2 linked regions of the Homo sapiens genome follow. The protein of the gene in region 2 purifies or fractionates together with the protein of the main gene of each other region. This does not show direct contact. Each region holds a gene or a part of one and is shown on either strand. Other genes may lie near its edges. The genes, in order: GRB14 and FTCD.

Region 1 (3,813 bases), on a different chromosome or scaffold from region 2:
TAGTTTCTAACACCATTGGAGAATAAGACAGGAAAGAAAATTGCTTTAAAAAGACCCAGAATAGGACCCTCGGAAAAAGGTAGGAGGAAAGAGAAAGGTAAGCTTATTGCCCTGGCTTTAAAAATCTTATTCCTGGATAAAAATTAATTTGCTGGTAAAAATGTTTGATTTCTAGTAAGATGGAATAAAACCATTCCTGTCCACTGATGCTGTAGAAGTCAATATAGTTCAGTTATTCAAACAAGAGTAAAAGGTAGCTTGAGAAACACTGGAAGGCAATAAGAGGTATGATGAGTTTTTTTCTCTTGATTTTTGTTCCACCACTGCTAAGGCTTATGGCACTATAAGGCTATGAAGTTGAACGGGCATGGTTAGCAAAATCTAAGTATGTGTACATTTGTACATTTCCCCATGTGTACGGACATGGGGAGGTGGAGAGAAGCGTACTTAGAGATTTCTCTGTAAATATATTCATGACCACATCTTTAAGATTTGCAGCAGTAGTTAACTAAATTTAGAACTAAAACCAATCAAGACCTCCTCAGAGAAAAGGATAGGAAATGGTTTCTTTGCAGGTAGAAATGCCATATGTGACATTAGGAGGGGCAGAGCAAGATGTCTGAACAGAAGGCTCTACCTATCCTCCCCCAAGCAGGAACACCAAATTTAACATTTACACCAAAAAAAAGCACCTTTCTAAGAACCAAAATCAGATGAGCACTCACAGTACCTGGTTTTAGAAGGGAGCCCACTACCATAAAGGGTGAGTCTCAGTCCTGGTGCATTCACCACAAGATGACTGGAGAGCCCTTAGGCCTTAAGTGAACATCAGCAGTCCCTGCAGTACTCCCTGGGGACTTCATATCACTGAAAGAGGCACTGAAGGAGGTAGGAAAGACAGTCTTACATTGTCAGTACCTCCCCTCGCCTGTTCCTTAGCAGGAGAAAGAATCTGTGTACTTGGGAGAGGGAGAGCACAGTAACTATGAGACTTTGCATTGAACTCAGTGCTGCCCTGTCACAGTGGAAAGCAAAACCGAACTGAACTCAGCTGACACCTACCCATGGAGGGAGGATTTAGACCAGCCCTAACCAGAGGGGAACCGCCCATCCCAGCAGTTGGAACTCGAGTTCTGGCGAGCCTCCCAACTGCGGACTAAACTGCTCTGAGCCCTAAATAGACATGAAAGGCAGTCTAGGCTGCAAGGACTGCAACTCCTAAGCAAGTCCTAGTGATGAGCTGGGATTGGAAGCCATGCACTTGGAGGGCACACAAGCTGGTGAGCAACAGCTGGGGTGGCTACGGGAGTCCTTGCACTACCCTTCCCACAAGCCCAGGCAGCACAGCTCGTGGCTCCAAAAAGAGATCCCTTCCTTCCACTTGAGGAGAGGAGAGGGAAGAGTAAAGAGGATTCTGTCTTACATCTTGGATACCAGCTTAGCCACAGTAGGACAGGGCACCAGAGTTGTGAGGCCCCTATTCAGAAAGTAGCTCCCAGATGACATTGTTAGACACACCCTGAGCCAGAAGGGAACCCACTGCCTTGAAGGGAAAAACCTAGTCCTGGCAGGATCCATCACCTGCTGACTAAGAGATCTTGGGCCCTGAATAACCAGCAGTGATATCCAGGCAGTAATCCATGGGACTTGGATGAGATCCTAAGATAGATCCTAAGACATGCTGGCTTCAGGTGAAACCTAGCACATTTGCAGTTGTGGTGACTATGGTGAGAGATTCCTTCTGCTTGAGAAAAACAGAGGGAAAAGTAAAGGAGACTTTGTCCTGTATGTTCAATGTATGTTCGATGCTAGCTCGGCCACAGATGGATAGAGCACCAGGATGGTTCTGAGGGGTCCCCAGTTCTGGGCCTCAGCTCTTGGATGACATTTCTGGACATGCTCTGAGTCAGAGGGGAGTCCACTACCATGAAGGGCGAGTCCCAGACCTGGTGGCATTCACCACAAGATGACTGAAGAGCCCTTGGGCCTTAGATGAACATCAGCAGTTGCTAGCAGTACTCCCTGGGGACTTGTAGTAATAGTGGCCAGAGGTGAGGCTCCTCTGCCAGTGAAAAGTGGGGGGAAGAGTGGGAAGGCCTGCGTCTCATGGTTTGAGTGCCTGCTAAGCCACAGTAGAATGGAACAACAGGTAGATTTCCAAGGTTTTTTGTTTATTTGTTTGTTTGTTTGTTTTTGTTTTTTGAGACAGAGTTTCACTCTTGTTGCCCAGGCTGGAGGGCAATGGCGTGATCTCGGCTCACTGCAACCTCTGCCTCCTAGGTTCAAGTGATTCTCCTGCCTTAGCCTCCTGAGTAGCTGGTATTACAGGCTTGTGCCACCACGCCTGGCTAATTTTTGTATTTTTAGTAGAGAAGGGGATTCACCATGTTGGCCAGGCTGGTCTCTAACTCCTGACCTCAGGTAATCCACCCACCTTGGCCTCCCAAAGTACTGCGATTACAGGTGTGAGCCACCACACCTGGCCGATTTCCAGGGTTTTTGGCTATAGTCCCTGGCTCCCAGATGGCATCTCTAGACCAACCCAGGGACTGGGGGAACTTGCTGCCCTGAGGGAAGGACACAAGCCTGGCAGGCTTCACTACGTGCTGACTGTAGAGACCCAGGGCCTTGAGCAAACATAGATGGTAGCCAGGTAGTGGTTCATGAAGCATTATACCACAAGGAAATACATGCACACACATAAGACCCACACACAAGAACAGCAACAAAAGAAAACTGTGTATGAGGGAAAGAAGGAAGCTATACAAGAGCAGTTGGGGGAAAATATGGGAAAAAGTCAGGTATAACTATTTTGCAGCTCCATATCTCCTATCAAGACCATTACCCAAACATCTGGTCTCCGTCGTTAGCTGTTTTGAGCATTGCCATTTGTTTGCTTCATCCTCAATAAAACATATCCAGAACTAAGATCACTATTTGTCTTCTAAGAGAGTTACCTTCTAGTAAATATGCTATTCCTGTTTATTTTTATTTTCTATTTCTTAATTTTCTTTTATCTTTAAGAACATTTTTAACTGCTTCCTCTTCTTTGATATCAATCAGCCACACAAATCTGGCCTTTTGCCATTTAATCTTGTGGCCCCTCTCTCTCTACTTCTCTCTCTTTCTCTTTCCTTCCCACTCCTCCCTCTCTGCCTCCTTTGCCTTCTTCCCTTCAGTCTCTTTTTCTCTCTTTCACTCTCTGTCTCCTTGATCTTTTAAGCTCCCTGTGACCAAACTAATCTCAAGATACTCTTTTGGTAATTTCACTCCCTTGTTCAAACACTTCAATGGCTTTCTGTAGTGGATTGAATAGTAGCCCCCCAAAAAATATGCTCATGCCCTAATACCAGGAAATTATAAATGTAACCTTAATTCAGAAAAAGGGTCACTGAAGATATAATTAAGTTAAGGATCTTGAGATGAGATTATCTAGGTGGGCCCAAAATCCAATGACAAGTGTTGTTATAAGAGACATACAGAGAGAAAGGGAGAAGGCCCTGTGAATACAAAGGCAGAGACAAGCCATGGGACATCTGAAGTCATAACTAGCCAAGACAGAAAATCCTAAGACAAATGCAAAAGATCACATAACAAGAATAGAAAAGAAGTAGTCAAATAAATAATGGATGTACATTTCTAGTATGAAAAAAAGATGAGTTTGCAGATTGAATGTGTGTGCTAAGAATCAAGCAAGATTTAGCAGACTATATTTCAACACACCTAGTAATATAGCAGGGAAATTACTGCACACCAAAGCTTATAAGAATGTTTGAAAAACTGCCAGAGAAAAAAGACAGTTTAACCCATAAA
Region 2 (3,813 bases):
CACATTTGGGTCTCCGTCTGTGGTGCCGCCGTGAGCGAGATCTTAGAAGGCAGCGGACACCCCGGCCCTGTTGGAGGAGGCCAAAGCCCCGGGAACTGCCCGTGAAGTGAGGTCTCCCTACCTGGCTCAGCCCAGCCAACCACCGTGCTCTCCAGCAACTCAGCCCCAACAGCTGCTTCCTGCTTTGCGGCAGGAGGCCTGGGGTCCCCCGGGCCCCCCTACCTGGAGGTCTGACCGGCAGGCCAGGTTCCCACACCGGGCCAGTTCCTGCAGGGCCGGCCACAGCGAGGCCACCGTCTCCGCCAGCGTCAGCGGCACAGAGACTGCCCGCCTCAGACCCTCCTGTAGGGCCGCCGTGCGCCTGAAAGGAGCAAGAGGAGAGCCTGAGCACAGCGGCACACACAGGCAGGCAGTGGACACACTGCACCCCAACAGGGCTGAGCAGGCTGCAGAAGCGGGCGATGGGAAGTCATTCCCAAACACCCAGCACGCCCAGGCCAACCACGCCCCGTCACAGCACCCAGGTACTCGGGATCCTGGCCACCAACTCCCCAGACACAGAGGCCCACGGTGCGGCCGGCCCTCCAGGCTCACCTGTCCTTTTCCTCAGGTGTGTTCTTGGGGAGCCTCATTGCTTCCTGCCATAAAGAGACAGAACCACTGGGCGAGGGACCGTAGGGGGAGCAGCCATGCCCTCTGAGCTCCCACAAGGGGCTGTAGCAAGGAGCATGTCCCAGGCAGGGACCAGTTCTCTGGGAACCAAGCTTCTGTTGGGCCAGTGGTTTATAGCCCTTAGCATCAGGCTTGGTGGAGGAGCAGGGTAGGGGGGGTCGGGGCACACAGCAGATGGTCAGAGACCCGGGGATGTGAGAAGCAGGTAGTTCCCTCAGGGCCCTTATTCTCAGCTAAAGAGCCTGAGGGCCCAGGAGGTCCCCTGAGCCCTCAGAACCTGTAGGCAGGAGTGGCTCTGGGCCTGTGTCTCCAACACAAGCAGCTGCACCGCCCCCAAGCCTGGGCATAAGAGGCTCAGACTGTGCAGAAGGACCAAGAGCAAACCTCAAAGCCCCTCATGTCCCTGCCCCGGTCACAGGCACTGGCCTTTCCTAGGTGCTCATGTGTGTAGCTCACGGCGTCACCGTAAGGCACTCGGCTCCTCGGACCCACCCCGTGTGGAAGAGCACAGCTGGGACCACACACCAACCTTCCAAGGACCCACTGGGAGCCCTACTCACACGGACTGTGGCCAGAGCCCTGGCCAAGGGGTTCTCAGTGGGGAATATGCTCACTTCATCTTGGAAGATTCAGCCAACTCTCCACCAGAAAGTCATCATCAACAGCCCCTACCCTCGACCATGGATGAGAGCAAATGCTCCCTGGGCGCCAGCCAGATCTGGATCCTTTGACCATTCCGACAGCAGTGATCGAGGAACAGAAATGCCCAGTGTCTCCCTGACTGGCTGGGGCATCATCCAGACCAGGCCTCCTGGCTGCAGCCCCTCTCCCAGGCTGTCCTCTGCACAAGGGTCTGTAGCAGTTGCAGGCGGAGGCAGGACAGCCATCCTCAAGCTGCGACTCGCGCTACGAACACTCTCTCACACCCAGGCCTTGCGGTGTCCATGGTCTCCCTGGGCAGATCTTGGCCAAGGGTGTGCTTTAGGTGGCCTCATCTGCGTCCGGCCGAGGCCTGCCCGCCCGGTCCGTTTTGTTTTCTGTGATTTATCGTGAGGCTTGGTTGTGTTGGTGGTGGGGAAATACAGTTTTCTATTCCATCTGGAAATTACTTATGTATTTGGTGCAAGGTACAGATATCTCCTTATGTTTTTCAAAAGTCGACCTTTGCATTGCTCAGAGGGAGCATAAACCAATCCAGCACTCCCCGTCCACCTTCACATTGCTCACAGGGAGTGTACACCAACCCAGCACTCCCCGTCCACCTTCACGTGCCTCACAGGGTGCGTAAACCAATGCAGCACTCCCCGTCCACCTTCACATTGTTCACAGGGAATGTAAATCAACCCAGCCCTCCCCGTCCACCTTCGCATTGCTCAGAGGGAGTGTAAACCAACCCAGCACTCCCCCGTCCACCTTCACGTGGCTCACAGGGAGTGTAAACCAATCCAGCACTCCCCGTCCACCTTCGCGTGGCTCACAGGGAGTGTAAACCAACCCAGCACTCCTCGTCCACCTTCACATTGTTCGCAGGGAATGTAAATCAACCCAGCCCTCCCCGTCCACCTTCGCATTGCTCAGAGGGAGTGTAAACCAACCCAGCACTCCCCGTCCACCTTCACGTGGCTCACAGGGAGTGTAAACCAATCCAGCACTCCCCCGTCCACCTTCACGTGGCTCACAGGGAGTGTAAACCCACCCAGCACTCCCCGTCCACCTTCACGTGGCTCACAGGGAGTGTAAACCAATCCAGCACTCCCCGTCTGCCTTCACATTGCTCACAGGGAGCGTAAACCAACCCAGCACTCCCCGTCCACCTTCACGTGGCTCACAGGGAGCGTAAACCAATCCAGCACTCCCCGTCAGCCTTCACATTGCTCACAGGGAGCGTAAACCAATCCAGCACTCCCCGTCTGCCTTCACATTGCTCACAGGGAGCGTAAACCAATCCAGCACTCCCCGTCCACCTTCACGTGGCTCACAGGGAGCGTAAACCAATCCACTGATTTCGACCACTGATGCCTAGCACAGTCTCACTGTCCCCGCTCATGGTTCTCTAAACCACACGTCTTGTTTCCTTCCTGTCCCTTGATTACATTTTCATCTATGTACTTTTCCTACTTGTTTTTTAATTATTCACCTTATTTTAAATTTCTAAACATAAAATTGTTCCTATGTTTTATATACATATGTTTACATTAGAGACAGGGTGTCGTTCTGTTGCCCAGGCTAGAGTGCAGTGGTGCAATCACGACTCACTGCAGCCTCAAACTCCTGGCCTCAAGCTACCCCCACTTAAGCCTCCTGAGTAGCTGGGACCACAGGTACCTGCTACCACGCCTGGCTTTATTTTTTTTTTTTCTTTTTGGGTGGGTAAATACAGGGTCTTGGTGTGTGGTCTAGGCTGGTTTCAAACACCTGAGCTCAAGGGATTTGCCCACCTTGGTTTTCCAAAATGCTAGGATTACAGGTGTGAGCTATCATGCCTGGCCTATTTCTAATATTTATACTTAAATTCATGACTGTCTTCAAATGCCTGTCCGGGTCTAAAGTTCATCAACCCATTAAAGTATAGAAAAGATCATCTTGTTCTGGGGAGGCCATTTGAACTGTGATACAAGACCCAAAAAATATAAAGTCAGGATTGACACATTCCACGACATAAAGATTAAGAGTCATTGTCAGAAGCCCCACACGCAAAGTCCAAAGACGAACAACAAACGGGGAAAGCTGAGCCCAGAACAAGGCCTGCCTCCCCTATTAAAAAAAAAAAATACTAGAAGGCAGCGAAAGCCCCAAGAGAAACTAAGATAAAAGGAGTCAAAAAATATTCACCAGATAACTTCCTGGAAAAGAAGTAAAAACCACTGCTAAATGTACGGAACATGCTTAACCTGCCCGGTAATGAGAAGCGCATCCCAGAAAGCAGGGTTCTGCAAGCAGGTGTTGGGTGCCCTGGGCCCCCCCGGGGAGGGGGGTGCTTCCCCCAGTGGAAAACCCAAGGGGCCAGGCTGGGAGCGGGCGGGGCTGTGTGCGAGGGGAAGGAAAGGCGGAGCTCTGAGGCAGCAAGAGAGGCGAGCACTGGGCGGGCTGTGGCGAAGGCGGGGTGAACCCCCGAAGGGCCTATCTACTGTAAAAAGTAAA

The links.
Region 1: the proteins of FTCD (region 2) and GRB14 fractionate together in Homo sapiens (co-fractionation; one study listed by BioGRID). This does not show direct contact.

Annotation. Positions count from the first base shown.
Region 1 is NC_000002.12:164,509,982-164,513,794, forward strand, and holds part of GRB14 (growth factor receptor-bound protein 14), read right to left. Parts: intron 1-3,813. UniProt on the Homo sapiens protein: Adapter protein which modulates coupling of cell surface receptor kinases with specific signaling pathways. Binds to, and suppresses signals from, the activated insulin receptor (INSR). Potent inhibitor of insulin-stimulated MAPK3 phosphorylation.
Region 2 is NC_000021.9:46,138,286-46,142,098, forward strand, and holds part of FTCD (formimidoyltransferase-cyclodeaminase), read right to left. Parts: intron 639-3,813; coding exon 595-638; intron 362-594; coding exon 223-361; intron 1-222.